Linked DNA regions of Homo sapiens. The protein of the gene in region 4 purifies or fractionates together with the protein of the main gene of each other region. This does not show direct contact. Each region holds a gene or a part of one and is shown on either strand. Other genes may lie near its edges. The genes, in order: SNX14, MAN1A2, DHRS7, TLR5 and DHRS3.

Region 1 (3,612 bases), on a different chromosome or scaffold from region 4:
AGCAGCACATAGTTTCTCTCACTTTAAAAAAACCTAATTTAGTAATCTTTGCTTTTTAATTGGTATCTGTAGTACATTTACACGTGATATATTTATTATGTGTTTATTGTTAGGCCTTACATCTTGGTGTTTGTTTTATATTTGTCCTGTATATTCTTTGCCTTTCTTTTTCTCCTTTGCTGCCTTTCTTGAGGTTATTTTTTAGTATTTTATCTTTCCTATTTTTTTGAGTGTGTTCTGTTACTTTTTTGATTGATCAGAGATTTTCTTTTTCATTTATCATAGTCCTAATTTAAAAACATTTTACTGCTTCAGGAGCAGTGTAAGAACCTCAGTGTACCTCAGAGCATCCTCTCCTGCCTATTGTGCTCCTGTTGTCATGTATTTTAATTCTGCATAGGCTATAAAACCACAGTACATTATTTCTTCACTAGTCATCAGGCTTCTACACATGTGTGGAATGCACACACACATTCATTTTTAAAGGTTCTTACAATTATTGGCATATTTACTGTCCCGGTGCTCTTCATTTCTTTCTGCAGAACCAGGTTTCTAATATTGTTTCTTTCTGCTGAAAGAAATCATTTTCACAGTTCTTAAAATACAAATATGCTGGAGATAAATTTTCTTAGCTTTTGTGTGTCTGAAAAGATGGCATGATCATGGCTCACGAAATACAGCCTCAACTTCCTGAGCTCATTCATCCTCTTGCCTCAGCCTCCGAAGTAGCTGGGACTACAGGTGAACACCACCATGCCTGGCTAATTTCTTTGTAGAGACTGAGTCTCACTATGTTCCCTAGGCTGGTCTTGAACTCCTGGGCTCAAGCGATCCTCCTGCCTCAGCCTCCCAAAGTGCTGGGATTACAGGCATGAGCCACCACACCTGACCTTTAATCAATTTTGAAAATTCCTGGCTGTCTTTTCAAATATCCTGCCCCATTTTCTCTTCTTTAACAACTCCAGTTATATGCATGTTAACTCATACAGGAATGGCAATTATATTCTGTTGCCTCACAAATCTTATATCCTGTATTCCAGCTTTTTTTTTTTAACTCCCTTTTTTCCCCTTTATGTTTCAGTTTGAATGATTAAGAAGTAAAAGGTAAACTCCTTATTAACACATCCTGAAATAAAAAGAAAAAGCAATTGGTATTTTGGCTATCATAATACTACCATCTTTTATTTTGGAATAAACATTCATTTGTTCAAACTCAGTTCTGCCACTAGTTTGCAGCGTTCATGATAGAAATATTGTTTAAAAACATTGATTGGGACTAAAAAAAGTCTTCATTTTTATTTTTATTTAGTAAATCAGATCTCAAAATAATAAAAGACTTTTGGTATAATAAATTCAATATTCTTTAAGGAAACTATTAGAAGTGTGTTTAGTGTTTTGAATTTTAGCAAAATTTGTATTGGTATTTATGTATTTACATATTTTCTATTAATGTATAAAAACTGGTTGATTGCATTTCTCTTTTATTGAGTAGTTATTTTATTCTCAAATATTTTTTAAAAACTTAGATGAATTAGATTGCTTCTAATTGCTGCTGTTAGTATTGGCTACAATTAGAATGGGACTGAAGCTTTTATGAATAATTATATATTAAAATTATTTTTTCTTATTCATTCCCTCATTTGTTAGAGGAATTTAATGATAGAATTTTACGACCAGAATTATCAAATGATGAAATGCTGTCTCTTCATGAAGAATTGCAGAAGATTTATAAAACATACTGTTTGGATGAAAGTATTGACAAAATTAGATTTGATCCCTTCATTGTAGAAGAGATTCAAAGAAGTAAGTCAAAGACGATAAGAATGACTTATTTAGCACTCTTACAGTTTTTCCATTTATTTTCTGTTTATTATTGCAGTGGCTAGCTGCAGTACATGGGCAGCTATTATTCTATTTTACTAATGAGATGAAAGCTTTAAAGAAAAAACTTATTTATACTTTATGTATTTGTCAGAACTAGAGCTTGGTTGGTCTAATTTCTCAATCTAGTGTGTTTCAGTGGAGTTTCAGTAAAACGTTTTAGAACTGTATATATTTATGCTATTTATAAATAATTTCTACAGTAGAATTTTTTTAATAGTTGCTGAAGGCCCATACATAGATGTTGTGAAACTTCAAACTATGAGATGTCTTTTTGAAGCATATGAACATGTTCTTTCCCTTTTGGAGAATGTATTTACTCCTATGTTCTGCCATAGTGATGAGGTAAGTCAAAATATTAACCTTGTTTGAGGATTTTTATACATAATTTAATAGTAGCTTTGATATCATTAGATGAGTGATTCAAATAACAAAATAAATAGAAAAATAAGACAAGATTACTGGGCACAGTTGCTCACGCCTATAATCCCAGCACTTTGGAAGGCTGAGATGGCTGAATCAATTGAGTTCAGGCATTCAAGACCAACCTGGCCAACATGGTGAAACTCCATCTCTACTAAAAATAGAAAAAATTAGCTGGGTGTGGTGGCACATGCCTGTAATCTCAGTTACTCAGGAGGCTGAGGCAGGAGAATAGCTTGAACCCAGAAGGCCAAGGTTGCAGTAAGCTGAGATCACACCACTACAACTCAAGCCTGGGCCATAGAGCAAGACTCCGTCTCAGTAGAAAACAGAACAAAAAAACCAAGATTAAGAAAGTAAATATTCTTTTTCGCTATGTAATTAAGTGAAGATTAAAAAATAATTGCAAAGGCCGGGTGTGGTGGCTCAGGCCTATAATCCCAGCACTTTGGGAGGCCGAGGCGGGCGGATCACAAGGTCAGGAGATCAAGACTGTCCCGGCTAACACATTGAAACCCCTTCTCTACTAAAAATACAAAAAACTAGCTGGGCGTGGTGGCGGGCACCTGTAGTCCCAGCTACTTGGGAGGCTGAGGCAGGAGAATGGCATCAACCCGGGAGGCGGAGCTTGCAGTGAGCCGAGATCGCACCACTGCACTCCAGCCTGGGCAACAAAGCGAGACTCTGTCTCAAAATAAATAAATAAATGAATAAATAAAATAATAATTGCAAAAACAATTATCAATACCAAAACCTGTTTATATTTGTGTAAGTAGATAGATTGGGACCAAATAGGTCTGCCTGGTTTGCCATATGCCTGAGTGGCTTTGTAGTACTGCAGTGACGCAGAAATCTCATTGTATACACGTTATTTACAAACCTGTGGAAATCATCTGCATTTGCAATATTTTCATCCTTACCCTAGTTGACCATGTCTGTATTCACTTGATTGAGATAGCTTTTTTTTTTTCCCAAAACTGGAAAGTAGTAAACTAAGGTAACATGTTTTAATGTTAATTGTAAGTGTAATAAATGATAATTATTATTTGTTATTTTAAAGTATTTCAGACAACTTTTAAGAGGTGCAGAATCACCAACACGCAATTCAAAATTGAACAGGTAGGTTGTATGTTTTGTTTTTGAACTTGCTGATGCCAGTCATTCTATGATAGCATCATTGTCTTTATTAGCTATTTTTCTGAATGAATATGTGGTTCCATTGTTATATGAGTTCACAAGGCATTTTACTAGTGAATTGTAGAACTGTATTCTATATGGTGATCTGAAAATGCCTGAAATTCTTTTAGA
Region 2 (3,612 bases), about 110 Mb from region 4:
AATCCATCAATTTAAATTTTTCACAAACTGTTTTTTTATTTCATACAATTTTGGGTTCTATTACTATATCCTTGCCCATTCTTCCAGATCTATATTAGTACATTATTCAATTAGCATTTGTATCAGTATGAAAACATACATAACTATGTTTAATCTCATCTATATGACAGGAAAAAAATGGGCATAATAGAAAAGTCTTCTTTCTTCAGGAGGTACATATTTGTTTGGCATTCTTTCCTTTTGAGAAATGTTAAGTCTTTTTGGGGACAGCTCTCCTTTCCTCACATATAACAGAGCTGTCAATCAAGAGGCTCTGCTTCTACCACCAATTAACTCACCCTAGCTAGAAAATCCCCTATCCTTAGACCAGAGATCAACAAACTAACTCTGCTGTTACAGCATAAAAGCAGTCCCAGATAATATCTAAGTAAATGGACATGGTTGTGTTCAAATTAAAATTTATTTTATTTATTTTTTTTGTTTGAGATGGAGTCTCGCTCTGTCACCCAGGCTGGAATGCAGTGACACCAGCTCAGCTCACTGCAAGCTCCACCTCCCGGGTTCACACCATTCTCCTGCCTCAGCCTCCTGGGACTAGAGGTGCCCACCACCACACCTGGCTAATTTTTTGTTATTTTTAGTAGAGACAGGGTTTCACCGTGTCAGCCAGAATGGTCTTGATCTCCTGACCTCATGATCCGCCCACTTTGGCCTCCCAAAGTGCTGGGATTACAGGTGTGAGCCACCATGCCCAGCCTAAAATTTATTTTTAAAAAACAGACAGCAAGCAGAATTTGGCCCACAGGTTGCAGCTGTCAACCCCTGCCCTAAACAAAGTGAGTGGATACATGTGATTCAGGTAGGAACAATCAAGTTCTTTTTACACATATTGTTATTGACACCATGAGATAGAGGGCTTTTTTATTCTGCAATCTGATGGTCTATGTAATATATAATCCTGGAGCTGATAATGGCTCTCTGCCAGCATGGAGAAACTAGCAAAAGGAAAGAGAGACAGATGCTTAACACTCACAATAATATCTACAGGCTTGGATTCAGCCAAACTTGAAGCCCTTGTTTAGAGCCATTAAACCAATAAATACTATTTGTATCACTTAGTTTGAGCTGAGTGTCTTACAACCCAAGGAGTTCTGAGTTATACAATAGCAGAGTATTTAATTATATATCAGACGAATTATATAATAGTAGACCAAAAATCTATTCATTTAACAGCATACTATTCATTAAACATTTCCCAACTTGCTTTATGCAGCCAGCATTAATCAGACACCAAAATCAAGCAAAGATATTACAAGAAAACTCAAGACCAATGTATCTCAAGAACACAGATGCAAAATTCCTTAAGAAAAATTAGCAACATCTAAGACAGATACCATACCACGACAAAGTGGAGTTTAACCCAGGAATATAAGACTAATTTAACATCCAAAAAACAATGTAATTTACCATGTTAACAGAATAAAGGAAAAAAAATCATACAGTCATCTAGAGAAAAATGAAGACAATGCATCTGACAAAATTCAACACTCATTCATGATAAAACTCTCAGTAAACTACAATTACAAGGAGACATCCTCAACCTAATAAACAGCATCTTTAAAAAACCTACAGTTGACACAACATAGTTAATGGCAAAAGACTGGATGCTTAACCCCTAAAGTTGGGAACAAACCTAGTATGTCCATTCTCGCCACTTACTTTGAACAATGTATTAGAACTCCTAGCCACTGCAGTACGACAAGAAAAAAAATATAAAAGGTATAAAAATCAAGAAGGAAAAAGTAAAAGTATCTCTTCACAGAAGACATGACTACGTATAAGAAAAATCACAAGCAATCTACAAAAAAGCTATAAGAATAAATAACTTCAGTAAAATAACAGGATAAAAGTTCAGCAAACTAAAACATGTTTCTATATGCTGAGTTCCGTGGGTACTTCTGGTGAGTCACTGAACCTGAGGATCATCTGGGGGTCCCCTGAACACACATGGTTATCTATCTGAATTATTACGTATTTGAAAAAAGTATTTCAGTACATTGTAATGACATCTGAAAAAAAGCAAGTCAGGCATCTGAAAAAAAATCTATCACTGTCTCTCCCAACACTGTCCGAAGGAAGTGCCTTAAGTAGTCTACATATAAAACAGACTCTAGAGGTGAGGTAAAATCAGAGCACAGCTCTATTTCTACTCCATCAAGGTCAAGGTTTTATAATAATTCATAAGGCTAAGCTTAAAGTATCTGCTATACCTTCCATATCCATTACTAGAATATATCCAAATAGATATTTGATTACTTGAACTAAATTTATCTTACTTTATAATAATTAAACCTTCTGAAATATTGTTGGTACAATTACACTCTGATAAAATATTTTTCTTCACAGGCAGTATAATCACAAACTCCACCCAGAATTTTTAGGAGTTCTAATTAACAAAGTTTAACCCAAATATTCACTAGATTTTTCCCATCTGGTATTCTCTTTACTTTTAAGTAACTACAGAATAACAAATTGAAAGACTTCTGAGGCTAAATAAATTTAAAGAATTTTGAAATCAATTCTTTCCCATTTTTCAATCCATGGAGACTTTTTGGAAGGAATGTGTTCTTAATCTACAGTATAGTTGAGGGATACCATGACATGTTCCTTAAAAAATTGGAGATATAATGCTAGCTCTTTAGAAGCATGTTTATGAGGTGATCTGCATAGTATCTAGCAGAGTCCCTTTGTAACTGAACATTTAAGAAACTGCTTAGACAATAAGTTATATACAGATATATTATTAATAAAACGCTGAATTTCAAAAGATCTCTGAACAAAGAATGAGTGGCACTAACCATCCAAAAGTTGTATCAAAAATATTTTAAGTGTCCAATAATTACATTATAATTAACATTAAAAAAAAAAACAAGAAAGAGTTCTAGTCCTTATTACCAACCTGGAAACTATACTACAACTATGACCCAAGAATAAACAGATCAAAACAGGATACCATAGATTATATATATTTGTTTGTATCCAAATACAAATCCATAAACACTCCATATCACAAAACTCAGCTTATTACCTCTTTAATTTTTTCCCTTTTCTCTCTTATGTCATTATCTTCTGGGTCTCCACCACGTATTCCTACAAGGTTGGGAATAGGGACTGGTGGCAGTGGCTTGTTCTCTTTTATCTTCATTTCTTGGACTACCTTATTTTTCTCTGTCTGAATTTCTGCTCGAATTTCCTCTCTTGACTTTCTTAATTTTTCTTTTGCTTCTTCCAAGGCCTTCTCATGATCAGCTCGAATTTTATTTCTCAGACGTTCTTCCTCTTCCCTGTGAGAAAAGAAGGAAATAAAACGTAACAGTGAGCCTACTTAAGAATGTCAACCTTTAAATATAAAACATAAAGGTTTCTCCATTAAACCCAGGAACTTGTTTTCTACTTTTGCCATTAAAAGGAAAGAATTATCAGTGAGACACATTCAGATCTGGAATGAGAAAGAAAAGGAACCCTGGATGCCTAAGATCAAACTCTGTTTATAATCTCTTTATACAATTTCCAGACTAAGAGCAAAGATAACAGTAACTTATCCATAGACAC
Region 3 (3,612 bases), on a different chromosome or scaffold from region 4:
TAGCTACCTAGTGTGCTTCTCTCGAGGCAGCCACCATTTCCTGCCTCCTCTGTATCCGTCTAGAGAAATTCTGTGCATTTCCAAGCATATATCTCACATGGTGATTTTTTTTTTTTTTTAATAGAGAGACAAGGTCTTGCTTTGTCACCCAGCCTGGAGTGCAGTGGCATGATCATAGCTCACTGCAGCCTCGAACTCCTGGGCTCAGGCAATCCTCCCACCTCAGCCTCCCCAGTAGCTAGGACTACAGGTGCAAACCACCACACCTGGATATTTTTAAACTTTTTGTAGAAACAGGCTCTCACTATGTTCCAGGCTGGTCTTGAACTCCTGGCCTCAAGTGATCCTTCCACCTTGGCCTCTCAAAGTGCTAGGATAACAGATGTGAACTGCCAAGCCCAGCCACATATGGTGAAATTTAAGGGTGACTAATTTTAGACATTAAAATGGTCCAGAAAAATCCATGGCACAAGTCTAGAGGAGGAAAAATTTCAACAGCAGCACATGTGAGCAAAACTCAGGTTTTTGTTAACAGTAACCTCAATAGGAGTCAACTGTGAAGTGGCTGCCAGAAAAGATCAGGCAACCTTGGGTTGCATTTGTAGACCTCAGTGTCTGAAGCAACAACTGCAAACAACAGATGTCTCCTGACTAGCTGCTTGTATGTGCCGGCCTCTGTGCTGGGGCACTGGGGACACTGCAGTGACTGAATCAGCCACAGTCCAGGCCCTCATAGACCCTACCTTCTGGGGGACAAGGGAAGTGATTTTTGACATCTCATCCTGCTCTGCACTGTCCAGACCCTACCGAATCCTGTGTCCTGCCCTAGCCAGCTCCCTTTAATAAAGAGGAACATTAACCAACTAGAATTGGTGCAGGTGGGTGTGAGCAGAAGAGTGAGGAAACCTGATACCATGTCATGTGAGGGAAGGTGGCAGAAATTGGATAGGTTTATTTAGCCTTAGAGAAGGTAAGAGATGAAAGGACTTAGGGAAGACATAATGGCTGTCTTCCCTAACAGCTGTGAGGGATTGTCATTTAGAAGACAGGTTTCATTTCTTTTCTTTTCTTCCTGAAACAGCTTTTTGTAAAACAAGAAAGCAGAATTGCAACACAATTTAAATGTCTGTCTAGGTCACAAAAGGGATGCAAAATGTTTGTAATATGATTAGTATGTATTCATATAGTGAGTCATTCTTACACCTATACATAAGATTATTCCATGATTAAAGGTAGCCCAGCTCTAATAACCATAAGCTATATTAGTGGATCCCTTTTCCTATTATAACATTTTAGTATTACTTCTGATATTGATTCCCTTAACAAATGGAGTCTACAAACTGAATTTTAAAAAATTGTTAAAAGTGACTAAAACTCTGTAAACAGAGGAGTTGAGTTTACAAAAAATTCTGGGAGAACAAGCAGGATAAAACTGAGCAAGATTATCAATAAGTGTACATCTGAAACTCCCATTTTTCACAGTTCTGATACTAATACATTCTTAAGGAATTTTGCAAAAGTTAATCTGCTGAGTAGAAATATACCTTGAGACCAAACTCTTTGTAACTGTTCTCTTCCAGATGTGGTACATAAGATTAGTCAAAGTTGGCCAGATGCGGTAGCTCACGCCTGTAATCCCAGCACTTTGGGAGGCTGAGGTGGGCAAATCGCTAGAGCTCACAAGTTCGAGACCAGCCTAGGCAACATGGCAAAACCTCATATCTACAAAAAAATACACACAAAAAAATTAGCCGGGCATGATGGTACACGCCTGTAGTCCCAGCTACTTGGGAGGCTGAGGTGGGAGGTTGGCTTGAGCCTGAGCCGTGGAGGTTGCAGGGAGCCAAGATCATGCCACTGCACTCCAGCTTGGGTGACAGAGCCAGGCCTTGTCCCCTCCCCCCGTCCCCCCGCCAAAAAACAGGTTAGTCGAGCTTAATCTACTCTCATATATTTCCCAAAAGATCTACTCTGTGCCAGAGATAACAAAAATCTGGAGTGAAAATATTTGGAGTTGGTTACTAGTATTTTCCCAAGTACTTTTCCATCCTATTTCTATTTTCCCTTAAGCTTTTCTATTTTAAACACACACGACCATAATTTATATCTTTTCAGATACAAAGTAGGTAATTTTGTAAAAAAAAAAAAAAAAAAGAAGTTTTTTTTTTGTTTTTTGTTTTTTGAGATAGAGTCTCACTTTGTTGCCCAGGCTGGAGTGCAGGCTCACTGCAAACCCCACCTCCTAGAGGTTCAAGCAATTCTCCCTGCCTCAGCCTCCCAAGTAGCTGGGATTACAGGCACCCACCACCACGCCCAGCTAATTTTTGTATTTTTAGTAGAGATGGGGTTTCGCCATGTTGGCCAGGCTGGGCTTGAACTCCTGATCTCAGGTGATCCTCCTGCCTCGGCCTCCCAAAGTGCTGGGATTACAGGCGTGAGCCACTGTACCTGGCCAAAAAGAAGTTTTTGACAACAAAAAATTATCTTCCCAGATTGACAATTCAGTTTCAATGAAAAATCTTCATTTTTATAGTCTCTTTTTGTTTTCAATTGATTAAAGAGAAACCAGCAATTCTATCTTAGTATTAAATATCACAAATGAGAAGCTCTAGCTGAGAAAATGTCTTCATTTGGTTAAGTTTTGACAATTAAAGTTCAGGTTACTCTCAGAGATGATTAAGTATTAAAATTGCTTTTACAAATATGAAACCAGTTTTTCCCTGGGGGAGGGGAGATAGGAAGGAAGAAGCCAGTGGAGAAGGGGCCCAAGAAGATGGATAGGGTACATGAATCTGTGCAGTCAGTACCTGATTGGGGTCACTTTTTCACAGCATGATGGTTATTTTCTTGTATATCTTACTAAGCCTATAATAAAAGACAGGGCTAAACCCACAAATCAGAGCAAATTTGATAAAACATTCATCTTAAGTTTCATAAATATGTGCTATTCTAAATTAAGTTTCCAATACATTTGCACATTCTCATAGACTAACATAATACACAAACTTATGGAAGTTTCCTGTTATGCTATGAATGTTGCCTACATCTGACATTAGCTTCATAAATATTCAATGAAACCACAAACAAAGGTACTATCACTTTTGAAATCTGTCCAACATATAAAGAAAGGTCAGCAGCAATTCCATAAAACAGAAGGGCTTCAATTCTGTATTTTCTTTTGCTTTTTGTGTCAGTTGTTTGAAAAACACTAGAAGCTGACATGAAATTTTCTGTGTATTGTCTAAGAAACTTGGTTTTCTGATTTTAGCTTGAGATTTTCTTCCGTAACCGCATCTCCTCTGACAGGGAGATCTTGAAGTGTATGTTGGGGTTCCAACACTTGATTAATAAGCTGTGTTTTTCCCTCCAATTCCAAATGATTTTCAGCATCAACTGCATCCATGTCAATATTTGTCGTCTTGGGTAACAAACTTTTGGGCCTTGGATACAAAATCCTTGATGAATGTTTGAGGTGCTGGGAGAGGAAGGGATGGGGAGGATGCCTCAGGCTGGACACTTGGACCCACCGACACCAGAAGTTTGATTTCTTCTTTGTCAAACCACAAGGCAGGATTACTGCCCACTGCTACTGGTTGATAGCATTTAAAAGCT
Region 4 (3,612 bases):
AAAAATTTAAAAAACAGTCAATAAATAATTTGATAGTCAACAAGCAATCTGCCACATGCAAAGTATTGCAAGGGACCAAAAAATATAAGCTATATGTCCCATCTCATTTACTCTTCATAACCATCCCATTTTACAGTCAGGGAAACTGTCTGGATTTGAACTCAGAAGACCATGATAAAGGCAAAATCAGAAGTCACTTTTAGTCCTGAGTTTCTGGGGTCTGAGATTCCTCCTCATCTTGGTCAGAGATATAACTGGGTTCAGATAGCTTCAAGACTACCTTTTCTTTTATTTCCCAACCTGTGAACCAAAAGGGTAGTGAGTGTGAATCTCTAGCATGCACAGATGTGCAAGAAATACTGCCTCTCCTCTATTTTCTAGATATTAATATTAGTTTAGAGCCTTCATCTCATCTGGCCAGCAACCATAGAAATCACCCCAGGTTGTGTCACTGTGTCACAATTTCAGATCTCTTATGCATTGCCAAGATCCCAGGGGCTCGGGTGCAGGTATCTCCTGCTCCCCCATCTGGTCCACTCGGGTTACCACTGAAGGCACTCTTGTGCCTGTCTTGCCTAGCAAGTCCTCACTGCTTCCAGACCACATAGCTAACTCACTGGGGTCCTGCCAGAGTCCTGTCTTCCTGGTGCTGACAGACCCCTTTTCCCTTCCTGTCTTCCTGTTTCTAGAAGCATGTCTCTCTGCTTTACCCATCAGCACACCCCACCCCTCTTCCCCCAACTTGGCAAAGACTTTGTGTCCCCAACCTAAGGCCCTGTTTGGAAAATCAAAGCCAGAAGAACTTGCAGGCTATTCCTGGTAGGGTTCTGACATATACCTGCCCTGGACCAATGACTAGGGAGCTGGCTACAGAGGTGGAGGTGAGCCTAGGAAAGCAGAAATACAAGGAGAGGGGGAAAAAAAAGTCAAATCTCAAAATATCTAGCCGCAGACATAAGCTCCTCTGAGGGTAATTTCTTGAGGGGGGAAAAAGTTGCTATTTAAAGCTAGGATATATGTGGTTCCATTTTTTTCATCGGTACATTAATAACATCATTTTCCACTATGTATCTTCAAGATCCGGTGTAACAGCCTTGCAAATTTGCCAGAATGAAGAAGGAATGTTCTGCTTCAGGGAGGATTGGCCCTGGTCTATGATTGCTGTCATGATGATACTCAGCAAGTTTCCTTAGATAACTTCAGAGTTAACAAGGATTTAAAAATGCTTCCATTTCAAACTCACCGTTATACATATGCAGAAACTGAGGACAATGAAAGTTAGAGTTGTCTAGGATACCCAGACTGTGGCTGAAGGAGGACTAGAACCGATATTTATCCTCTCCCAGCCCAGCATTTTTGCCATGGTCTCATGTATCTCGAAAGTAACCACCACTAGCAAGTTGGAGCCAAATCAACTAGCTGACTCCCTGCCCTGACTCAGAATGGAGCATAGCCACCCTGGGCAGCCTGCCCAGGCAGATTCCACATGCAGTAAACCTCCTTCGGGTCCCAGGACACTGGGCACAGGGTGGGGACCTGTGCTTCCAGCAGGGGTGCGCTCCCCAGCCTCACCTGTCCCTGCTTACAGTCCCTCAGGCAACACCAGTGAAATCATCTTCCTCTCAGGGCATCCTCATCCTGGCCTGAGTGCCCCCCACCTTTCCTTCTCAACCTCTTCAGGGCTTACCTTGCATCAGGGGGTGTCTCCAGCAGCTGCAGGGTGCATTGGATTTTATCTGCCTGGGAAGCTTTCTCTTGATTCCTTTGCTAGCCCAGCACAGACTACACATCCCTCTCAGAACAGTTCTCAAGTGTTTGATACTCTCTCTTCACATTCCCATTTCGTATCTAACTGATCAGGTTAATAGGGTTCCTAGTTGCCGGTCACCACCCCCACCCCAGCTGTTTCCAATTTACATCACACTCCAAATGATTTTTGCAGCGCTTAGCAGATTGTCTGTGTCATTACTTTCAGGGATGCTATACTGGACTTCCCTACTCTCATCTGCTCCAGCCCCCTGACCTTATAGTTGCCCAGCTTTCCTGGCAATTGACTTTGCCCATCAATACACAGGATTTAGCATCCAGGGAAGATGTCGGAGCCTCAGATGTTAATTTTCTAATTGAGAATGTTGGCGCTGTCCGAACCTGGAGACAGGTAGGGATGTTCACTTTCTGGGCGAGCCACCTTTTCCCGACGATTTTAAATGTTGTGCTAGTTGTTCGTTTTTAATAATCACTAAAAATTATTTCTTTCAATCAGATGCTTTAAAATTGTGTGCTAAAGAGTTATAATGTGCAAACAACGGGGAAGCCATTCTGTACCTAAACCATGTGTTTTCAACATAACTTTTCAGAGTATCAGCGCCTTTGCTTGCTGCTGTTTTTGCTGTTTTTTGATGCTGGGAACCACCACCTAAAGATAGTAAAGAAAACACAGGAAGCTTTCCGGTAACTCATGCTAAAGAAACACAAAATCACCCCAGTGCCTTGAGAAATTTCCTTTCCCTCTCTAACTTTCCCCTTCAGTGTTCTAAAGGGAAGGCGTTTCTGGTAAGGTGTAGTTGCGTAAATGATGGCTGCCTACTTCAGCAAGCAAGAACTGTTGGAGTATTAAGCATGGGTAACTGGATATTCTGGTTTGGGCACTGGAGGATCCCTGGAAGCCGGAAGCAGGCTGTTGCTGCCGGGGTAGGGGCGGCGGGGGTGGGAGGTAGAAACTTATTGCTGTGATTTTATAGGCAGTAAACTGATGCTTAGAGAGGTTCAGCACTCGCCCAAGCTCACACACCTACTAAACTGTGGAGCTAGGATTTGAATCCAGCTACAAATTTAGTTGTCATTGAAATGTCTAAATGCACTCTACTGCGCAAGCGATAGGAACTTCCCAGCGGAGCTCAGCTCAGGGACGCTTGCAGCTCCCCGCGCCCCGCTCGACTCTCCGGCCGCGGCTCCGCGGGCTCCTCCCCCTCGGTCCCTGCCCCTTTTGCGCCCTCTGCTGGTCTCTAGGGAAAGCGCATCTCCTGAAATCAGAAGTCGCACCCAAGCTGTCCCGTTTCCTTAGCTCCTAGTAAAGCGATATGACCCATCCATCCCCTCCTCCTCAAAGCCTCACATGAATCTTCTTTGAGGTACTCTCTGATGCTTCACTCTTCAGCGCTGAGAAAAATGGGGAGGAAGGGGAAGTGAATGTATTAGTATAGCCCCTTCTCAAAACCAATCGTGCAGCATCTTAGCCATGCCTTATCCTGGAAGAACGAGGCAGCTCACGTGGGCATGGGGGTAATGAGCAGGGAGGCAATTACAGACTCTTAGGTTCTCACCGCTAACAGTGTGGTCAGTGGACCAGCAGCAGCATCACGTGGGAGCCCGTTAGAAATGCAGACTCTCAGGTCCTTCAGCCACAGCCCTGATGAATCAGAATCACCGTTTCAAGGAGGTCTCAGGCGGGCCGTTTCAGGTTCCGAGCTCGCTTTGAGGCTCTGTGGATGTTTTGCAGCATATTCAATTTTGTTTTGTTCAAAGGTCACAGTGACAACTAAGTTTGCAGCGGGATTCAAATCCGAGCTCCACAGTGTAATAAATGTGAGATCTTAGACAAGTGCTTAACCT
Region 5 (4,167 bases), about 210 Mb from region 4:
TAGGTCTTTGCAGGTGACGAGGTAATCCCAGCCTCCCCTCCCCGCAGATCAGCGTTTTTCGAAGTGACTTTCTCACCAGGCGGAGCATTGAAAGTACCGATCCCAGCGCACCCAGCCCTGCTGAATCAGAATCTCTGGGGGTGAGGCCCAGGAATCGCCGTCTGAACAAGTCGCGGGCTGGAAACGGCTGCCCCAGATTACAGGGCAGCTCCCTGCTTCGCTCTCGCTCCTCCGGCCCCGGGAACGTGCAGGGGGGCGGGAGGCAAGTCCCATCAGCACTTTGAACTGGGGCTGCTTTTTAGTGACTCACCTCCCAGACTTCCTGCAACAGACAACTCTAAATAGCTCGGTCCCACCCTCCAGCAGGGGAGACATTCCGGTCGGGAAGGGCAGGAGGTTAGAAGGTGGGTGCCCCGCCAGGGCAGTCCAGGGAGACCCAAGGACAGGAGACGCTGGCTGCACAGCACAGGGGCGCACGAATAGGACGTTTTGTTTACAGGCTTTTGTTATTAAGGAAATTGGTGTCAGTCAAGGTAATTCTAGCTCAGATGAGCAATAAATATGCTCCCAGCTAATCTTGTGGGGATTTTATTGGCACTCGGAGCAGAGGTTCCTTTACCTTGACTACTCCCTCCCCTCAAAGCAAAGTCCTGCTCCCCAGCGGCTTCCCCCTAAGCATCGTGAGGCACTTGGGTCAGGCTTTTAAAAGTCCACTCTACGTGAACACAGAAGAGGTCCGGGCAAAGGTGAGGAGTGGCTTCCTGATCCTACCTGGAGGCCGAGGATGACCAAATGACCTGAAATAAAACCCTGGGTGACCTGGTTGGATCAAGGCATACGCAAGCTCCCCCGGGCCTGCTCCACACTCGGGGTGATCACCTGGCCCGCGGGCGGCCCGGGCAAGGAGGAACGTCTCGAGAAGGCAGCCGGCTCGCCGGAGTCGGTTCCAGCGTGTTCGAGTTACAGCTGCGAGCCCTCAGGGACACCGGCGGCAAGTCCCGGCTTGCAGAGAGGGGAGCCAGTCCCGGGAGAGCGCGAGTCCCGGCGAGCCCGAGTGCGCGCCTTATGCGCGCTCCCCGCGACGGCGCAGGGGGAGGGGAGGCCGCAGCAGCCACTCAGAGGAACGGTAGTGAAGCCTCCCAACAACTTTAACTGTCAATCAGACTTAATGGGGTATTGAAAAAATGGGGGAAAAAGGGGCCGCCCTCTCCGCGACGCGGCTGCCCGGGGAGCGAATGAATAGGGCCGCGCAGACCAAGGCGTCCGATCCACGCGCGCTCCACACCCGGACCCTCTCCAAGTTGGAAAGGACAAAAAGAAGGCAATAAATGCTAAAAAGGGAGAGAAGGGGAGCTGGATCGAGCGGCAACTCCCAGCCTCTGCTGGAACAGAGAGGGAGGGAGGGAGCCGGAGCGAGCGAGCGCGCGCGAGGGCGAGCGCTGCACGTAAAGAAACTGACACCCGGACCCCCCACTTCTCCTGCACGTTGCTGGCAATCAGATCGCGTTTAAGCAATTTCCTGAGCCCAAGAATAGCAATGAGTCGGGAGACTTTCGCGGGCTGAAATTGGGAGCTCCAAGCACTTTTTCCCCCCACTTTTTTTTTTTTTTTTTTTCTGGAGACGGGGTGGGGGTGGGGGCGCTACAATTTGGAATCAGCTTTTTTTTTTTTTTTTTTTTTTTTTTTAATCTTGCACTTTGAAACCGCGGGACCGAGGCAGGGTGCGCGCGTGTGGTTGGTGCCTTTTTTTTTTTTTCTTCCCCTCCCTAAACTCCTCTGTCAGTCTGTAAACATTACCTGAGAATTCCCCAGCCGAAACGGCTGCTGGGGCAAGAAACTTCTTGTTAGAACTTTCCACCTCCGGCTTCCCCCTCCACCTCTTTTACCGTCCCAACCTTAGGAGACGCTTTTTCTCCCCCAGAGGAGAATTTATCTTTTTTTTTTTTTTTTTTTTCTTTTTCTCACCCGGTGCTTTGCATTTGGGAAGAGGTGATTTCAAGAGTGGCCAGGTGGGACGCCTCTCTCCTCCTTATTCGGTTTACTATTTATTGTTCGGGGTGTTTTTTAATTCCTGTATTGCTCGGCCCGGGGAGTTTCGCCCCCTGCCCGGCTCCGCGGCGCGGAGGATGGTGTGGAAACGGCTGGGCGCGCTGGTGATGTTCCCTCTACAGATGATCTATCTGGTGGTGAAAGCAGCCGTCGGACTGGTGCTGCCCGCCAAGCTGCGGGACCTGTCGCGGGAGAACGTCCTCATCACCGGCGGCGGGAGAGGCATCGGGCGTCAGCTCGCCCGCGAGTTCGCGGAGCGCGGCGCCAGAAAGGTACCAGGCACTGCGACTCCAGGGAGTGGGGGGCCGCAGGGGCGGGGGTAAGCCCACCTGCTGCCGCTGCGGGATCCCGCGCCCGGGAGCTGAGAGTCGCCGGCCACCCCACTTCTCCGCGCCACCCACGAGTGCTGAGCTAGTCGGTTTCACCTTGTAAATTTCCCGGGCACCGGACTGTCTTTTTTGGCAGGTTCAGAGTTGATCCGCTCCTTTGGGATCGGTGGCTGGCTGACTGGCTATTCACCCCCACCCTGAAACCTAAGAGACCCACCATTTCCCACATTCCTGCCTCCCAAAGGAAGGTGTTGTGCCCCCCTCCCCCGCCTTCCCCCCTTTTTCTTGCCGCCACCCTGGTGAGTGCAGGGTGTGCGCACTCCTGGGTAGAGCTGGGAGCCGCCTGCTAGCTGGCGCCTCGTATTTTCCTTGGCAACCCGCTACCCAGCCCCAACCTGGGCGGCTGCAGCTCTGAAGACACGAGAGAGGGTACTTGGTTTGGGTTTGAAAAGGGAAGAGCGGTCTTGTATGCAGTAGTCTGGCCGGACCGACACTGAGAGGCCCAGGTGTTTGGAAAGCAGGAAAGAGGAGGCCAGGGTAAGCAGCTACTGATAAAGAGCCCTTGTTCTCACCTTCAACCCTGTCCCCTCCCCCCCAGTACACCCCCCAGGGATCCCTCCCCATTTAGCTGGAAGGTGGTGCTGCAAGGAGGGTCCTGCCCACCAAACACGGCCTTTAACTTTTTGGTGGTCCTGGCACCCCTTGCTCCAGGTTTTGGAGACCTGGTGCCAGAGTGGGGAGAGTGGGCAGGCTGTCACCCAACTCCCAGCCCAGGCCAGGCTGACTCACGCGGTGACCAGAGCCATCAGGAGAGGGAGGCAGGCCAGGCTGTCTCCAGCCAGCCCTGTGAAGAGGAAGAGCGAAAACAGGGAATTAGTTTGAAACTTAAACTGTTGTGAACTAGGGGGGTGAAAGGGCCGCAAAGCCAGCTGATCTGACATGGAGCCGCATACCTTGGGGATTAAGTAAATATGTACTGTAGAAAACCAAACCTGCATGTAATTCCAGGTTGCTTTTGTTTTGTTAAATACTGCCCTGAGATTTACAATTCCTCCGGGGTGGCTCTGACTGGGACTGAACTTTGGAGCCTGAACTATCAGCCAAAGCCGATCCGATTAACTCTTCCCTAGCCGGGCTGGCCGGAGCCTGTGGTGGCCAAGCTAGCAGGGGTCTGGCTGTCCAGGACTCCCTCTTCTCCTTGGGTGGTTTGGACAGCCGCTTGACCTTGCATTTGGAGGGGGAGTTGGGAAGCGTTTTTAACCCTTGGACACAACGAATAAGGGGAAGTCAGAGTTGTTCTCAGCAGTTTCATTTCCTTGAGGCGATGCCCCATAAAAGGGCTCCTGAAGCTCTTTGTGAAGGGGACTGAAAAGGGCAGATGAGGGTGTCCTTTGGGGCGGACGTGGGGTTTGGGACAATTGCATGTGATTGTCATTCTTTAGCTGTCTGCATCCCACAGAAACTTTTTTCTGAGTCTTCCAGCTGGCCCAAGTCCTGGGTCTCTTTTACTGTTCTTGTAGCTGACTACAGTAGGCAGATGAGGAACTCTTAGTCAATCTGGAAAAACTCGACTGACTATAAACAATCCTAAATTGAAAGAAGTGTATGGCATTGGGGGGTGGGTGTGATAGTACAGAGTGGAGCCTGCAAGTTCACGCACCGGGAACCAAACCCCACCTAACTTGGACTGGACGTCCTCTTCCAGGGAATCCAGCCAGGGCCAATTAGAAATGTGTCTTAAATTGGTGTCAGGGTCACCAAAAACAAAAACAGGATCCATGGGGGCCTG

What was found.
Region 1: the proteins of TLR5 (region 4) and SNX14 purify together in Homo sapiens (affinity purification with mass spectrometry; 2 studies listed by BioGRID and IntAct, with this or other methods). This does not show direct contact.
Region 2: the proteins of TLR5 (region 4) and MAN1A2 purify together in Homo sapiens (affinity purification with mass spectrometry; 2 studies listed by BioGRID and IntAct, with this or other methods). This does not show direct contact.
Region 3: the proteins of TLR5 (region 4) and DHRS7 purify together in Homo sapiens (affinity purification with mass spectrometry; 2 studies listed by BioGRID and IntAct, with this or other methods). This does not show direct contact.
Region 5: the proteins of TLR5 (region 4) and DHRS3 purify together in Homo sapiens (affinity purification with mass spectrometry; 2 studies listed by BioGRID and IntAct, with this or other methods). This does not show direct contact.

Annotation. Positions count from the first base shown.
Region 1 is NC_000006.12:85,541,796-85,545,407, reverse strand, and holds part of SNX14 (sorting nexin-14), read left to right. Parts: intron 1-1,647; coding exon 1,648-1,803; intron 1,804-2,101; coding exon 2,102-2,226; intron 2,227-3,364; coding exon 3,365-3,423; intron 3,424-3,612. UniProt on the Homo sapiens protein: Plays a role in maintaining normal neuronal excitability and synaptic transmission. May be involved in several stages of intracellular trafficking. Required for autophagosome clearance, possibly by mediating the fusion of lysosomes with autophagosomes.
Region 2 is NC_000001.11:117,401,918-117,405,529, reverse strand, and holds part of MAN1A2 (mannosyl-oligosaccharide 1,2-alpha-mannosidase IB), read right to left. Parts: intron 3,345-3,612; coding exon 3,089-3,344; intron 1-3,088. UniProt on the Homo sapiens protein: Involved in the maturation of Asn-linked oligosaccharides. Progressively trim alpha-1,2-linked mannose residues from Man(9)GlcNAc(2) to produce Man(5)GlcNAc(2).
Region 3 is NC_000014.9:60,158,886-60,162,497, reverse strand, and holds part of DHRS7 (dehydrogenase/reductase SDR family member 7 isoform 1 precursor), read left to right. Parts: intron 1-3,612. UniProt on the Homo sapiens protein: NADPH-dependent oxidoreductase which catalyzes the reduction of a variety of compounds bearing carbonyl groups including steroids, retinoids and xenobiotics.
Region 4 is NC_000001.11:223,133,228-223,136,839, reverse strand, and holds part of TLR5 (toll-like receptor 5 precursor), read left to right. Parts: intron 1-1,975; 5' UTR 1,976-2,158; intron 2,159-2,357; exon of another isoform or gene 2,358-3,612. UniProt on the Homo sapiens protein: Pattern recognition receptor (PRR) located on the cell surface that participates in the activation of innate immunity and inflammatory response.
Region 5 is NC_000001.11:12,615,308-12,619,474, reverse strand, and holds the start of DHRS3 (short-chain dehydrogenase/reductase 3), read left to right. Parts: upstream 1-1,264; 5' UTR 1,265-2,126; coding exon 2,127-2,321; intron 2,322-2,685; exon of another isoform or gene 2,686-4,167. UniProt on the Homo sapiens protein: Catalyzes the reduction of all-trans-retinal to all-trans-retinol in the presence of NADPH.